2 separate regions of the Homo sapiens genome follow, and region 2 is linked to region 1. The links come from fine-mapping of genetic effects on gene expression. Tissue or cell type: whole blood. Region 1 holds a variant in brackets; the other region holds the start of a gene. All regions are shown on one strand. Distances are between the middles of the regions.

Region 1 (8,104 bases):
CTGTAGTCCCAGCTATTCAGGAGGCTGAGGGAGGAGGATTGCTTGAGCCCAGGAGTTTGAGACCAGCCTGGGTGACATAGCAAGTCCCTCTCTCTCCAAAAAAAAACACAAAAATTAGCCGGGTATGATGGCACAGGCCTGTAGTCCCAGCTATTCAGGAGGCTGAGGGAAGAGGATTGCTTGAGCCCAGGAGTTTGAGACCAGCCTGGGTGACATAGCAAGTCCCTCTCTCTCCAAAAAAAAAAAAACACAAAAATTAGCCGGGTATGATGGCACAGGCCTGTAGTCCCAGCTATTCAGGAGGCTGAGGGAGGAGGATTGCTTGAGCCCAGGAATTCGAAGCTGCAGTCAGCAATGATTGTGCCACTGCACTCCAGCCTGGGCGACAGAGCCAAACCTTGTCTCTAAAAAAAATAAAAAATAAAATAAAACTCCTTAAGTGCTCTCCACTGCCCTTGGGATATAATTGTAATTCCAGGGTATGGCCCAGCCACTCACCCCCAGGCTTCTCTCTAGCCCTCCAGGGTTCCCCTCACACCTTGGGACTTGGCACAGCTGTTTGATCTGCCCAGACGGCCTGCCCCTCACTCTTCTGCATGAAAAAGTACCCAGCCTTCAACACCGGGCTCAAATATGCTCCCAAAGCTCCCTGCACTGCCCCGCAGAGCTGAGAATTTCCATTCTTTGTGCCCTCCAGCACTCCGAGCGCGTGGTCTCCACTGCCACGCAGTATTACAGTGACCTGCTCCATACCCACCTCCCCCACAGCAAGGGAACCTCTGCCCTGTTTATCTTGGCCATGCCTTTGCCTTTCCCACCTCAGCACCTGGCAAAGTACTCACAGTTTCACAGGCTCCCAGACTACCGACAAATATGGGCTGGATTTAACTTGGACTTAGCTCTTAGCCCAACTCTTATTCATCTTTCCTGTTGCTGAGCGTTAGGCTGCCCCACCACTACCCCGTGCCTCATAGGTTTTTTGTTTTTTTGACAGTCTTGCTGTGTTACCTAGGCTGGAGTGCAGTGGGGCCATCTCAGCTCACTACAACCTCTGCCTCCCGGGTTCAAGTGATTCTCCTACCTCAGCCTCCTGAGTAACTGGGATTACAGGCATGCACCACCATGCCCAGCGAATTGTTGTATTTTTAGTAGAACAGGGTTTTGCCATTTTGCTCATGCTGGTCTCGAAGTGCGGCCTCAAACAATCCGCCCACCTCAGCCTCCCAAAATGCTGGCGTGAGCCACTGGGCCCGGCCAGGTTTGGTTTTTCCATCTTTACTTAATTAAGACTACCAGCTGTTTCTACCTCCCGTATGGAAGATGCTGGGAATTGGTGAGTCTTTCTGGGGTTTCAGGATTATTCCTAGGCAGAGACCTGAAGACACTGTGAGGCAGTCGGGGCTGGGACCAGCGCGGCCATGGGGATGGAGATGTCACAGTCACAGGCTCTGTGGCTCTGAGGACCAATTCCTGTGGCTTGCTTTTGTGGCCACAGAGTGTTTCCTCAACTGGAGGAATCTGTGGGCTGTCACTAGGGACCAATGTGGGAGGAAAGCAAGAAGGGTTGGTATAAAAATCAGCTTGCTACTACAAAACAATGTCCTATCCTTCCTGGCGGTGGGCCAGTGCATTGTTGGAGTTTTCATTCCATAAAATAACAGATTTTTACATAAAGTAAGTTGACACCTTCGGGGCTGACACTGACAGCACCTCTGAGTAGGTAGGGCAGGTAGCCCGTGCTGGCAGCAGAGGTTTCCTTTATCCAGTGAGGAAACTGGAAGTCAGAGAGGTTAAGAGACGGCCTTGCCTAAGATTGCGCAGCTGGTAAGAGACAGGGCTCTGACCAGAATCTGGACTCTGATTGTGGTGCAATTTTCTGAATCTGGTGCCCTGACACAGCCATGACGGCAATTCTTAAACTCAGCACATACATTACCCTTAATCTCGAAGCATGCAGGAAGAAGAGCTCCAAGATTCCACTTGCTGAGGCTTCTGAAATATCCCTGCAGGTGGAGAGCACTTCCTGCAGCCCTGAATCCTGAAGGCGAGCCAGCACCCAACTTCGGTGGGCTTCAAGCCACTGGAGTTGGCCGAGGGTGCTTTCAAAGTAGTTGCTGTGATTCTACCAGCAGCAAAGCTGTCACGGGTGATCTTTGAAATTAATGGGCTGATTTGATTAGTAACTGAAGTCTGTTTGCTTGGTGGGAGTTTTGTGGTTCTTTGGATGGCACTCTTGGGGATCTCGTGGCAGGGCTTAGCGAATTGGACTTGGTCTTGAGTTATCTGGACTTGGTGCTAATGGCTGGCAGGCCCAGGAGATGCCTGGGCAGCCCGTAGACTGGGGCTATCCAGTGGCATTCTGAGCAGGGCAGTGGGTCTCGGCCCACATGGGAGAGCTAAGGGTATTTCTGGAGCATGTAATTCCCAGGGACCATGGCTGGCTCCTCAGACCCCCATTACTCCCACTGTGCTTGGCTGGTCCTCCCAGGGGCTGGGGGCCTCTGCTCAGCCACAAGACACACCATATTAGGGAGTGGTGGGAGATGCTTCCCTGAGGGTCTCATGGTACCTCCTTCGTATGTAGGATCTGAGAACCATATAAACTTGCCTAAAAGAGTCTCGGGGCCTCTGGAGCTGAAGCTGTTCACATGCCGGGAAGCATAGGATGACCCACCTCCAAACTGGGGCAACACCAGCTCCTCCCCTGGGGCCTTAGCCCACCCTTGGTTTTCTGTGCGGAGGGCTCACCCACCTTTCTGACAAAGCTTCTGATGGCTCAGAAGCCAGTTGGCCTGAGTCAGAGCCAGGAGAGCCTTCCCATGGGAAGGGGCTTTACATGCTATTACCTTTCTCATCTGTTTCCAGCTGCACGGATGATATGCTAACCCCCTGTCAAACATCCCTGCCTTTTGTAATTCTTTGAAAGCATTAGTTGGAACCAAGTGGCTCTCGTTTTTCCCCACTATTTACTCACCTATCCAGCTGCCCTTTCAATATCGTGGGTGTGTATGTGGGTGGACAGGGGTGTGTATGTGTAGTGGCAGGAATCCGGATGTTTTGCTTTTTGCTTTTTTCTGGAATTGATTTCTCCAGATCCATACCTACTCCCCAATATCCACCTGTCTTCTGGACACTAGATCCAGATTTTCCTCTGGGGAACTATTTCCCTCCCTCCAACCTCTGTGATGTGCTATAATTGGAACTGCCTCCATCCCTAGATTCAGGGATAGACATGTTTTGTTTTACTTGCAACAGATTTTTCAGTCAACTTACCTTTTATATCAGGGGTCCCCAACCCCTGGTCCATAGACTGGTACCGAAGGTGCATAGACTGTGCACCTCCAGGCTGCATGGCAGGAGGTGAGCAGTGGGTGAATGAACATTACCTCCAAGCTCTGCCTGCTGGTTATCCCAGCTCTGCCTCCTGTCAGATCAGCAGTGGCATTAGCTTCTCATAGGAGTGTGAACCCTACGGTGAACTGCACGTGACAGGGATCTAGGTTGTGCGCTCCTTATGAGAACCTAACTAATGCCTGATGATCTGAGGTGGAACAGTTTCATCCTGAAACCATCTCCCTCCCCCACCCCTTGTCCATGGAAAAAATTGTCTTCCACAAAACCGGTGCCTGGTGTCAAAAAGGCTGGGGACCACTGTTTTACATCATCTAAATGGCAACTGATTCCTGCATGGGTCTCAGAATTTTCAAGACAGGAAGGAGCCTTTGAGACTATCTAATACTTTCAATCACTCAACTAATGTTTTTATTTTGTTATTATTTTTTTAAAAATAGAGACAGGGTCTCAACTCTGTCACCGAGGCTGGAGTGCAGTAGCACGATCGTAGCTCACTGCAGCCACCAACTCCTGGGCTCAAGTAGTCCTCCCACCTCAGCCTCCTGAGTAGCTGGGATTACAGGTGCATGCCACTACACCTGGCTAATTA[G/A]AGCAATTTTTGATGGGGTCTCACTATATTGCCCAGGCTGGTCCCAAACTCCTGACCTCCAAAGATCCTCCTGCCTCAGCCTCCCCAAAGCTTGGGATTACAGGCCTGAGCCACTGCACTTGGCTTCAAACATTTTTAAATGCCAGCTCTATGCCAGTCCTTGGGTTAGATGAAGAAAATGATATCTGGGGCTGGGGATTTGGGGTGACCAGATCAGGGTTACAGGGAAAGTCGGTGGCTGAGCCAAGGACCAAAACCTAGGCCTTCTGACTCCCACACCAGCCTTCTTTCCTCATGCTTCTCTGCTTCCTGAGATTAAATTCTTCTGGCAGTGCTCAAGTACGGTTATGTGATTATGAAAAAACACAGGGAACTCTGTGCCAAGCAGCTATCATTGGTTTCCTGGGCAGGGTTGCAGAGAAAGAGGAGAAGGACAAAGGAACTTCTCCCACCCCTGTGTGCCAGCCTCAGCTCTCTGGCGGGGGGCAAAACAGGCTCGTGGGGCTGCCTGAGGGCTTGTCCTCTGGTGTCCCTCCTCTGGGCCCCAACAGTCCTCTGCTTCATCCACACCAGCCCCTGGGGTGCCCCACCGCACCCCTGGTCCCCCGCCTCTGTCCTTTGTTGAAGTCTTTCCTCCCCTAGCTGTTCACTTTTATCTATCAAAGATCCACCCTTTCTCCAAGCTGCAGTCCAGATCCTGCCTCTGCCGAGAAGTCTTCCTGGATTCAGAGCTTGTCTCTTATTCCTGCTAATGTTTATTCCTTCGGCCTTTACTGAGTGACAGGAGGCCCTGTGCCATTGCATCATCATAGGGGAGGCTCGTAGGAAGGCATCATAGGAGGCTTGTAGGAAGCTGGTCTTCATCTCTGCTCCCAGGAATGGGACCAGGCCCTGGCACCTGGCAGGGCCTCAGCTAAGACTCTGGTTGGATGTGATTGAATCATCGTGAGAAAGGGGAATCCTTGCCCTGCTGGGGGGCGAAACGGGGGGTAAAGTTAGGACCCCCTGCCCTGCCCCATCTCACAAGCGTTGTGAAAAGGTCTTGAGCTTTGTCTGACTGGGTCTCGCTTGAGCCAGTACTGCCCCGTGAGAGATGGTTCTTTGCACTTAACTCCAGGTAACGGAGGGCCCATCCTGCAGTTTCCCCTTAAGAGCCTGGAATGGGAGCCTCGGGAGTTGGAACTGGTCTCTGGAGTTTGCCTTAAGCCCAACCAGCTTGGTCAGCTCTTTAGCCCAAAACTCCTGTATTCCAAGGGCAGGGGTCCTCAGGCCCAAGCTCCACCCAGCTGGGTGGGTTAGACTCAGACTCTTTTCTTAAAAATGAATCAAGTAAGAATAAAAACTAATACTTATTAATAAAAGCAGATACTTCTTGACCCCTTACTACATAGGCCAAACATGTCATTCGACAGATGAGGAAACTGAAGCACAGAACTACAAAGTACCTTGCCCAAGGACACACACCTGCTGTTCCAGTCCAGAGCCCACACTCTGAACCGCTCCTTGTCCCCACCCACTGCCCAGATCATTCGGCTCCATCCTGTTATCCACTTGTCATTCCACTGTTTGCCCATGGTGCCTCCCATATGGGGATTTAGTAAATGCTTATCAAATGGGGGTGCTTATTGAATTTGAGATTTCTGTTTGTTTACCAGGTTATCCCTAGCAAGGCATGGAGGGAATAAGGGGGAACAACAAAAATGCTGGATGCTGGGCTGGGCGCGGTGGCTCGCGCCTGTAATCCCAGCACTTTGAGAGGCTGAGGCGGGCGGATCACCTGAGGTCAGGAGTTTGAGACTAGACTGGCGAACATGGTGAAACCCCGTTTCTACTAAAAATACAAAATTAGACGTGGCGGCATGCACCTGTAACCCCAGCTACACGGGAGGCTGAGGCAGGAGAATCGCTTGAACCCACGAGGCGGAGGTTGCGGTGAGTTGAGATCGCACCATTGCACTGCACCCTGGGCAAAAAGAGTGAAACTCCGTCTCAAAAAAATAAATAAATAAAAATGCTGGATGCTGCAGCTCTGTCTTGCTGTGTGATCAGTCCTTGGCACAGATATCCCACCCGAGCCAGGCTTCTTGCATGTCCTTACTCTCTGCCGTTCCCAGGGAAGGAGGATATTTCTGAAAAGGTCCTGAATTTCAGATGGGCTGTCATCACTGTCAGTGTTAGGATGGAAGGGCTGAGTGCAGTTGCCTCCAGACCAACCCCTGTGAAAAATACTCCAGGGAAAATCGCTCTGGAGAGACATGGCTTCTGAGATGGTGCCCTGGGTGGATGGAGGAGAGAGCTGGGAGGTCTCACATCAGTCGGGATGATTTTGCTTTCAAGCAACAAAACCCAACCCACAATAGATTAAGCAACAAGGGGGATTTATTGACTTGTGGAGTTGAAAAGCCCAGACGAGGTGGACTTTAGACGTGGTTCCATCAGGGCTCGGGCCCCGTTTCTCTGTGATTCTCTCAGATCCGCTCCCATCCACCGGGCTTCATCCTCTGGCTGTCTTCCAGCATCCTCCAGAGCTGCAGGCTTCCTTCTTCCAGGGGTAAAGTTAGGACCCCCTGCCCTGCCGCATCTCACAAGCATTGTGAAAAGGTCTTGAGCTTTGTCTGACTGGGTCTTGCTTGAGCCAGTACTGCCTCTTGGAGTGTCTAAATCTTAATGGTTGTTTAAGCAAATTAAGGAAATGGAGTTGATGAGCACTTCTGAATGGCATTGGGCCCCAGGGCTCACTGGAGACAGGAAGAGTTTTTACCAATTGCTCTCTGCTCTCGCTTGCTGGTGTCTGATTTTACCAGAGTACAGTGACCTCAGCTGGGACACTCAGGCCTGCACCATTCAGACTTCAGAGCTGTATGTGGATCTGTGTGAAGACCTCTAGGAGCCCAGCACTCAGATTTGGGAGGCCCCACTGCACATCAGGGCAAACACGTTAAAACATGCCCACATTCCACATGCAGCATTGTAACCAAAACACAGGTTCAGTTGCCTGCCACTTGCAGAGTCCAAATAATAAGAGTGAGGTCTGGTATAAGTAAAGTGACTTTTTATTTCAAAACTAGCTTAGGGGAAGAGGTACAGGCTTCTTACCTTAAGAGTACCACCTTGGGGCTGGGCGAGGTGGCTCAAGCCTGTAATCCCAGCACTTTGGGAGGCCAAGGCGGGTGGATCATCTTGGTCGGGAGTTCAAGACCAGCCTGACCAACATGGAGAAACCCCTTCTCTACTAAAAATACAAAATTAACCAGGCGTAGTGGCGCATGCCTGTAATCCCAGCTACTCGGGAGGCTGAGACAGGAGAGTCACATGAACCCAGGAGGCGGAGGTTGTGGTGAGCTGAGATCACGCCATTGCACTCCAGCCTGGCCCACAAGAGAAAAACTCTGTTTCAAAAACAATCAAAGCAAAACAAAGCAAAAACAAAAAAGGCTACCACTTTGGGCTGGGCGCAGTGGCTCATGCCTGTAATCCCAGCACTTTGGGAGGCACAGGCAGGCAGATCACCTGAGGTCAGGAGTTCGAGACAGCCTGGCCAACATGGTGAAACCCTATCTCTACTAAAAATACAAAAATTAGCCAGGCATGGTGGCAGGTGCCTATAATCCCAGCTACCCAGGAGGCTGAGGCAGGAGAATCACTTGAACCCAGGAGGCAGAGGTTGCTGTGAGCTGAGATCATGCCACTGTACTCAGTCTGGGCAACACAGCAAGACTCCTTCTAAAAAAAAAAAAAAGAGTATCACTTCACTTTTGGCGTGGAAGGTGGGTACTTTTAAAGGGTGCCTGGCACACAGACATGAATGGCACATGGGAGGAAGCAGGCAGGTGGGGGGCTGTGTACTTGCTTTGGTGCCTTATCTACCAGGTGGCCGAGAGTTGGCGTCTTTGAGGACAGAACTGGGTTGTGAAGGTGGCCAAAACTCTCCAGGTGGGAGAGAGTTTCATAGCAGGCATGCTTTGGGTTGTAAATGGACTGTTGTCTCTCAAGGCAGTCCCCTGGTGGGACAGAGTTCCACCCTGGAGCTTCTAAGCACGAAGTTAGATAAACTTGCCCTGTAGGGAGTGTCTGGTGAAGGGAAAGTGAAAGGTTATAACTGCATTTCTAAAGGGACAAGTGGGATGTAGATAATAGGGAAATAGAGGAAAGAGAAGAGAA
Region 2 (8,104 bases), 28 kb before region 1:
CTGTCTGGCTTCCGGGCCCTGGACTGGCAGTGTCCCCCAGCACCCCTGTCCAGCTATGCCAAGCCCCCTCCTTTTCTTTCTTGGCCTCTGCCCTATTTGTTCTGTGACTGGCCCAAGAGAGGGGTGTGGGCTGGCAGGTGTCCCACATAAAGCCTGGAGGCAGCATCCAGGCCTGGCTGACTTACCCCGGGGCCCCCTGCCTACTGCCCCCAGCCAAGCTGGGTCTCCTTCTTCCTGCCCAGCTGAGGCAGGGCCTAGAAGGGCACCGAGGCAGGCCCTCTGTGATGCTCCTGTTGCTATGGTAATTCTAGATGAGAAGGCCATAGCATTCTGTGTCTGGCACCCCCGCGCATCTCCCCAGCTCTGCCCTGCTGCCCCAAGAGATGGCTCTCTGCTGGGGAGCTCGAGAGCTTGGAATCTGCTGCAGTCAAAGTTTCTTCCATGCGGCCAGGCACAGTGGCTCATGCCTGCAATCCTAGCACTTTGGGAGGCCGAGGCGGGTGAATTACTTGAGGTCAGGAGTTCAAGACCAACCTGGCCAACATGGTGAAACCCCATCTCTACTAAAAATACAATACTTAGCCGGAAATCACTTGAACCCAGGAGGCAGATGTTGCAGTGAGCCAAGATCATGCCACTGCACTCCAGCCTGGGTAACAAAGCGAGACTCCGTCTCAAAAAAAAAAAAAAAGTATCTTTCATGCAGGCCCCATCCTTTGGACCTCCCTTCAACCCCAAGAGAGACCACTACCCTAGCAGGTAAGACTCTACCTCTCAGAAACTGACCTTTACTGTAGAGCTGATAGTGGGAAAGGGCTCAGGATCCAAAATCAAAAGACCTAGATCCTAGTCTCAAGCCATTTATAGCTGTGTGACCTTGGACAAGGCAGGCCTTGAGCTTCAGTGTCCTCCTTTGTAAAATGTGGATAAACATGCGATACTGAATCATCCTTCAGGAATAGCTCTATGACTTTCCGTAGGTTGTTCCCCTGATGTGTAATGCTCTTCCATTCTTCTCAGCTCCATGAACTCCTACTCATGCTTCAAGACCCAACCGAAATGCCCCATTGTCTGTAAAAATTTCCCTGACCTCTGTGCACTTGGCACAGATCTTAGGCCTTGCCATTCTGTGTTAGAGTTGTTATTTAAGTGTTTCCAAATTTTTTGACTATGAATACGTACAGGCAGGAATCAGATTAGGCTCAGTTCTGGAAGGAGAAATGGTTTGGCGAATATTTTCTTTGCGGAACGGAAAGCAGAAGAGGGCGACCTTGACTGGGTTGGGTGCCATCTCTGCAGGGGTCAATCCTGGGACTCTTGTTCCAGGCATGGCTTGGGTCAATCAGCACTCATGACTTTGCTGTGTGCCTGAGCCGTGCCTGGCTAACTGGGGACATTTTCATAGCTGAGACCCAGTAGGAGAGACCATGACTTGTGCCAGGGTGTGCCTGTCTCAGCTCTGGGGCAGGGCCAGGAGCAGCTGCTCATGGGATGTCTCTGGGGACATGCTGGGGCCTCTGGGAGGGGAAGGGAGACTGGCCATGCACTGTCTATGGTCCTGGTGGTACTCCTGGGATATTGCCAAGGAGCCTGCGGTTCAGGGAACAGGGAGGAGGGACTCTAGTGTCTCCAACTCCCTCTCATGGCTCTATGGCTGCTGGTCGGGGTCAGGGAGATGAAGCAGTGCCAGCTCCGTGGTCTGCACTGATCCTGACCAGTGAACCAGGCTTCCCCAGCCAGAGCCAGCTAGTCAAGCACGCTCTCTAGTGGCCACCACAGGGAAGGCAAGAACTTGTCTCCACAAAGGCAGGATTTTCATTTATTCCTTCAGAGAGTACAGAATGAGCATCAATGTTCCAGGCATGGTGCCAGGCATGTGTGTTAACTTTAGTTAAAACATACTTATTGGCCGAGTGTGGCGGCTCACTCCTGTAATCCCACCACTTTGGGAGGCCTAGGTGGGAGGACTGCTTGAACTTAGAGCTCAATACCAGCCTGGGTAATGTAGTGAGACCCTATCTCTATAAAAAAAAAAAAAATAGCTGGGTGTGGTGGTGTGCGTCTGTAGTCCCAGCGACTTGGGAGGCTGAGATGGGAGGATTGCTTGAGCCTGGGAAGTGGAGGTTGCAATGAGCCAAAATCACACCCATTGCACTCCAGCCTGGGTGACCTTGTCTCAAAAATATAGTTATATATTTACTTATATATTTATATGTATAAATATATGTGTACATACAAATATATTTGTAATATTATAGACATATTAATACATATTTACATATGTTAATATATAAATATATATAATATATATTTATCATCTTCTAAATGGAAAGCTCTTGAGTTTCAGGATGTGTTGGTTGGGAAGGGAATACAGGATAGGGAAATAATCCATTAAGCAATGACTCAGCACAGGCCATAAAATCAGAATCACCTGGAGAACTTGAACAATCCCAACACCTGGGGTCCATCCAGACCAATCAAATCAGAATTCGTAGGGGTCAGGCACAGGCACCAGTGGTTTGGAGAGTTGACGGACACATGTCCCATCCATCATTCTCATTCGGCTGCCAAGGTAGGCATCGTTGTCCCATTTTGCATATGAGGAGACTGAGGCTGAAGTGAACCTGCTTCTTTCCCCATATCAGTTGAGGACAGCGATGGGGCAGCGGGGAGGCAGTAAATACTCCTACAAGGCTGCCTCTAAAGAGAGTCTTATAATAACAACAGCTTTATTGTTTGCCATGATTAGAAAAGTATTCAAGGTCATTGCGAAATAGTGTTTTTTTTTCTAGGCAGATAATTATATAAAGGCAAAAATGGTGTGTGGGGGTGGGGGACAAGGGGAGGGAGAGCATTAGGACAAATACCTAATGCACGCAAGGCTTAAAACCTAGATGATGGGTTGACAGGTGCAGCAAACCACCATGGCACACGTATACCTATGTAACAAACCTGCACATCATGTATACCTATGTAACAAACCTGTACATTCTGCACACGTATCCCAGAACTTAAAGTGAAAAAAAAAGTGGTGTGTAGAAAAATCACCTGCAATCTCAGCATAGTTAACGCTTAGTACATTTCAGAGAGAGAGGGTGACAGGAAAGGGAGGATGAGAGTGGGTTTAAGACACAAGGTCATATTATAAAATCAGGGCTTCTGGAAGTTTAGTCCCAAAACCACACATCTCATAATCCCCTGCAGTGCTTGATTAAAATGCAACATCCCTAAGGCCACAGACTCAGACTCTGGAGAAAGATCCAGAAAACTGCCCGTTTAATAAACATTTGGGCGATTCTTACGGCCTCTAAAGACCAAGAACCACTGCTGCCTAGAGCTCTGCTCTCTTCATTGAACAATACAAGAGGAGTGTGTAGGTAGACACCCACCACTTCCAACAGCTTAGGAGAGCCCTTGAGTATGGATTGATGTATTAAAATTTATTGAATCACATGCTGAGATTTTCACCAGCTGCCCGTGGGGATCTGGGCATTTATTCCCATATTGCACTGGCTGGCTGGAAGCCAGCAGCATAAACTCCAGGGCTGTTCTGTCAACCCCCACCAGACTCACCCCCCTCCACCAGCCCCGGCAGGCTTCTCCTTCCATCTCTCTGAAGCAACTTACTGATGGGCCCTGCCAGCCAATCACAGCCAGAATAACGTATGATGTCACCAGCAGCCAATCAGAGCTCCTCGTCAGCATATGCAGAATTCTGTCATTTTACTAGGGTGATGAAATTCCCAAGCAACACCATCCTTTTCAGATAAGGGCACTGAGGCTGAGAGAGGAGCTGAAACCTACCCGGGGTCACCACACACAGGTGGCAAGGCTGGGACCAGAAACCAGGACTGTTGACTGCAGCCCGGTATTCATTCTTTCCATAGCCCACAGGGCTGTCAAAGACCCCAGGGCCTAGTCAGAGGCTCCTCCTTCCTGGAGAGTTCCTGGCACAGAAGTTGAAGCTCAGCACAGCCCCCTAACCCCCAACTCTCTCTGCAAGGCCTCAGGGGTCAGAACACTGGTGGAGCAGATCCTTTAGCCTCTGGATTTTAGGGCCATGGTAGAGGGGGTGTTGCCCTAAATTCCAGCCCTGGTCTCAGCCCAACACCCTCCAAGAAGAAATTAGAGGGGCCATGGCCAGGCTGTGCTAGCCGTTGCTTCTGAGCAGATTACAAGAAGGGACTAAGACAAGGACTCCTTTGTGGAGGTCCTGGCTTAGGGAGTCAAGTGACGGCGGCTCAGCACTCACGTGGGCAGTGCCAGCCTCTAAGAGTGGGCAGGGGCACTGGCCACAGAGTCCCAGGGAGTCCCACCAGCCTAGTCGCCAGACCTTCTGTGGGATCATCGGACCCACCTGGAACCCCACCTGTGAGTACAAGGTGCCCCAGGTGGACTGGGCTGGGGCTTTGAGGCCTTCAGGGTTGGATGGCCATCTTGCGTATTTGTGTGGGATATGCACACACAGGCAGCACATGCGCAGGTGTGTGGGCACCTGTGTGTCTGTGCAAATGCCCTGAGGTGGGAATGAGCTTGGTGTGCATCAGGCACAGCCAGCCAGTGTGGCTGCAGCAAAACACACAGGGAAAGAATGGAGGGGGCATCAATCACTGCTTCAGTAAATTTTTATTGAGCGCCTTCTACGAGAACACAAGAGGAGCTTCCATTCTGAGGAGGAAACAGGCAGGAAACAGGCAGATATCCTGTATAATTTCAAGTAGTGATAAGTGCTCTCTAGAAATATCAAGCAAGGTGAGGAGACACAGAGCACCGGTGGCAGTGGGGCTCTATTTCCAGGTTGGATGGTTGGGAACATCCTTTCTAAAGGGAACCTGGAGTGGGAAGGAACCATGCAGGTATCTCAGGAAGAGCTTCCTCCAGGCAGGAAGATCAGCAGGTGGAAAGGCCCTGGAGCCACCATTCAGTAAACATCATTTGAGCATCTCTACCAGCTAGGTTCCATTATGGGAATGGGAATATGGTGGTGGACAGGGCTGCCTGGTCCCTTCCATACTTCTCACACTAGGGTGGTTGAGAGAGCTTGGGAGCTAACGAACAAGATGGGCTGAGAACACTGCCTAGCCCAGAGGACCTGAGCTTAGTGTGTAGACATTGCTGCTGTTACTGCCTTTGTCATTGTATTATTTATTTATTTATTTATTTATTTTTAGACAGAGTTTTGCTCTTCTTACCCAGGCTGGAGTGCAATGGCGTGATCTCAGCTCACTGCAACCTCCACCTCCTGGGTTCAAGCGATTCTCCTGCCTCAGCCTCCTGAGTAGCTGGGATTACAGGCACCCGCACCACGCCTGGATAATTTTTTTGTATTTTTAGTAGAGACAGGGTTTCACCATGTTGGCCAGGCTGGTCTCGAACTCCTGACCTTAGGTGATCCACCTGCCTCGACTTCCCAAAGTGCTGGGATTATAGGCATGAGCCACTGCGCCCAGTGATTATAGAAAGTTAAAGGCACATGGCAATGCACACGCCTATCTACGTCTTCCCTGCCAAAGCAAAGGGCAGCCTCTGGGCTCACTTTCTTGCGTTTCTACTTCCAAAAGGCAGTCAGAACTGGCAGGGCCTTGGAGACCACTTCATCCACCTCCTAGGGTCCCTATGGGAGAGTTGAGGTCCAGAGCAGGGAAGGGTCCTGACAGGCTCTGACCAGGGCCTCTGATCCCTACAAACCCCCAATCGGTGTCCCTCTCTACCAGGACCCAAGCCCACCTGCTGCAGCCCACTGCCTGGCCATGACCATCACTTACACAAGCCAAGTGGCTAATGCCCGCTTAGGCTCCTTCTCCCGCCTGCTGCTGTGCTGGCGGGGCAGCATCTACAAGCTGCTATATGGCGAGTTCTTAATCTTCCTGCTCTGCTACTACATCATCCGCTTTATTTATAGGTAAAGCTGGCAGGGCTGGGCCGGGGGGCCTGGGAAGGATGTGGCTGGGGCTGGGAGCTCCTGGGGGCCTCCCAGCCAGCTCAGGGGCCAGTGTACCAGTTCACTACAAGACTAAGCTGAGCTCCTGACCAGGTCCTGGGCACTGGAGCTGAGGCTGGGGCTGGGGGCTGGGGAGAGAAAAGAAGTCAGACTGAGAGGCTGCTCAAGCCAGGCCAGCAGGGTTTTAGCCACCCTTCCTCCAACCCCAGGAGGACCCCTGGAGCCCAGGCTTTGTCTGGCCCCACTCAACTGGCCTGTTTTACTGAATCCCACACAGACTCATAGGCCCACATAGTACATTAAAAAAGAGAGAGAGAGAGAGAGAGAGAGAGAGAGATGGAGTCTCACTGTGTTGTCCAGGCTGGTCTCGAACTCCTAGGCTCAAGCAATCCCCCTGCCTTAGCCTCCCAAGGGGCTGGGATTACAGGTGTGAGCTACTGCACTTGACCAACCACATGGTACTTTTTTTTTTTTTTTTTTTTTTTTGAGACAGGGTTTCACTCCATCACCCAGGCTGGAGTGCAGTGGGGGCAATCTTGGCTCACTGTAACCTCTGCCTCCCAGGTGCAAGCGATTCTCCTGCCTTAGCCTCCTGAGTAGCTGGAATTATAGGCACACACCACCACGCCTGGCTAATTTTTTTTTTTTTCTGTATTTTTAGTAGAGACAGGGTTTCATCATGTTGGCCAGGCTGGTCTTGAACCCCTGACCTCAAGTGATCCACCCACCTCGGCCTCCCAAAGTGCTGGGATTACAGGTGTCAGCCACCATGCACAGCCCACATGGTACATTTTTTAAAATTATTTTTTAATTAAAATGTTTATCTAAGGCCAGTAGCAGTGACTCGCGTCTGTAATCCCAGCACTTTGAGGGGCCAAGGTGCGGGGATCACTTGAGCCTGGGAGTTCAGCGTGGGCAACATAGTGAGACCCCGTCTCTACCAAAAATTTAAAAAATTAGCTGGGAGTGGTGGCATTTGCCTGTGGTCCCAGCTACTTGGGAAGCTGAGGTGTGGGGATGGCTGAAGCCTGTGAGGTCGAGGCTGCAGTGAGCTATGATCACACCACTGCACTTCAGCCTGAGTGACAGGCTATCTCAAAAGCAAACAAAATAATGTTTATCTAAACAATAAAATATAATCACAGAATATATGATAGCATTTTAAATTGAAAAAGCATTAATGATTACATGGATTGTAAAATATCAAATACATGAAATTCTTGTGTTCTTAATAATGCTAGCAACAAGGCACATTTGGTTTTTACTAGGGCACCAAGGTACTTTAAAAAAAGTTAGGGCCAGCCACAGGGGCTCACACCTGTAATCCCAGCACTTTGGGAGGCCAAGGCAGGAGGATCACTTGAGCCCAGGAGTTTAGGACCTGAGCAACATAGGGAGATCCTGATCCTGTCTCTATAAAAAATTAAAAAATTGGCTAGGCCCTTTGGCTTACACCCGTAATCCCAGCACTTTGGGAGGCCGAGGCGGGTGGATCATGAGGTCAGGAGTTCAAGACCAGCCTGGCCAACATAGTGAACCCAATCTCTACTAAAAATACAAAAATTAGCCGAGTGGGGTGGCACGCACCTGTAGTTCCAGCTACTCAGGAGGATGAGGCCGGAGAATCGCTTGAGCCCGGGAGGCAGAGGTTGCAGTGAGCCGAGACCATGCCATTGCACTCCAGCCTAGGTGACAGAGTGAGACTCCGTCTAAAAATAAAATAAAAATCAAAAAATGATCTGGGCATGGTGGCTTATGCCTGTAGTCCCACCCAGCTCCTCAGGAGGCTGAAGCGGGAGGATTGCTTGAGCCCAGGAGGTTGAGGCTGCAGTGAGTCATGACTGTGCCACTGCCCTTGAGCCTGGGTAACAGAGCAAGACCCTATCTCAAAACAAACAAACAAACAAACAAACAAACAAAAACCAATAAACCAAAAACATTTATCTAAACAATAAAATAAAGGACAGATATAATCACCGAATATATGATAGCATTTTAAATTGAAAAAGCACTAATGACTACAATGGATTATAAAACATCAAATACATAAAATTCTTAAGTTCCTCCTAATACCAAATACAAAGCACATTGGTCTTTGGTTTTTACTTGGGCACTAATGCATGCTGAAAAAGAGTCAGACTTCATTTTTTAGAGTAGTTTTAG

What was found. PIP is the estimated chance that this variant, and not a neighbour inherited with it, causes the effect.
Region 2: it holds the start of BEST1, and the variant in region 1 is fine-mapped to the expression of BEST1 in whole blood (TOPMed, PIP above 0.99).

What each region holds. Positions count from the first base shown.
Region 1 is chr11:61,974,538-61,982,641 of GRCh38, forward strand. No RefSeq gene overlaps it. Among named protein-coding and RNA genes, the nearest start is that of FTH1, 11 kb to the left of the region's middle. RefSeq lists a silencer at 3,844-4,060. The variant G/A (reference allele first, on the strand shown) is at 3,944.
Region 2 is chr11:61,946,057-61,954,160 of GRCh38, forward strand. BEST1 (bestrophin 1) reads left to right here and starts at 4,295. Exons shown (of 11, transcript NM_004183.4): 1 at 4,295-4,371; 2 at 5,715-5,902. The coding sequence starts at 5,751. It overlaps LOC107984334 (a long non-coding RNA gene), which reads right to left. Exons shown (of 2, transcript XR_001748245.2): 2 at 7,863-8,104. It also overlaps a transcript of RAB3IL1 not described here. RefSeq lists a silencer at 1-156.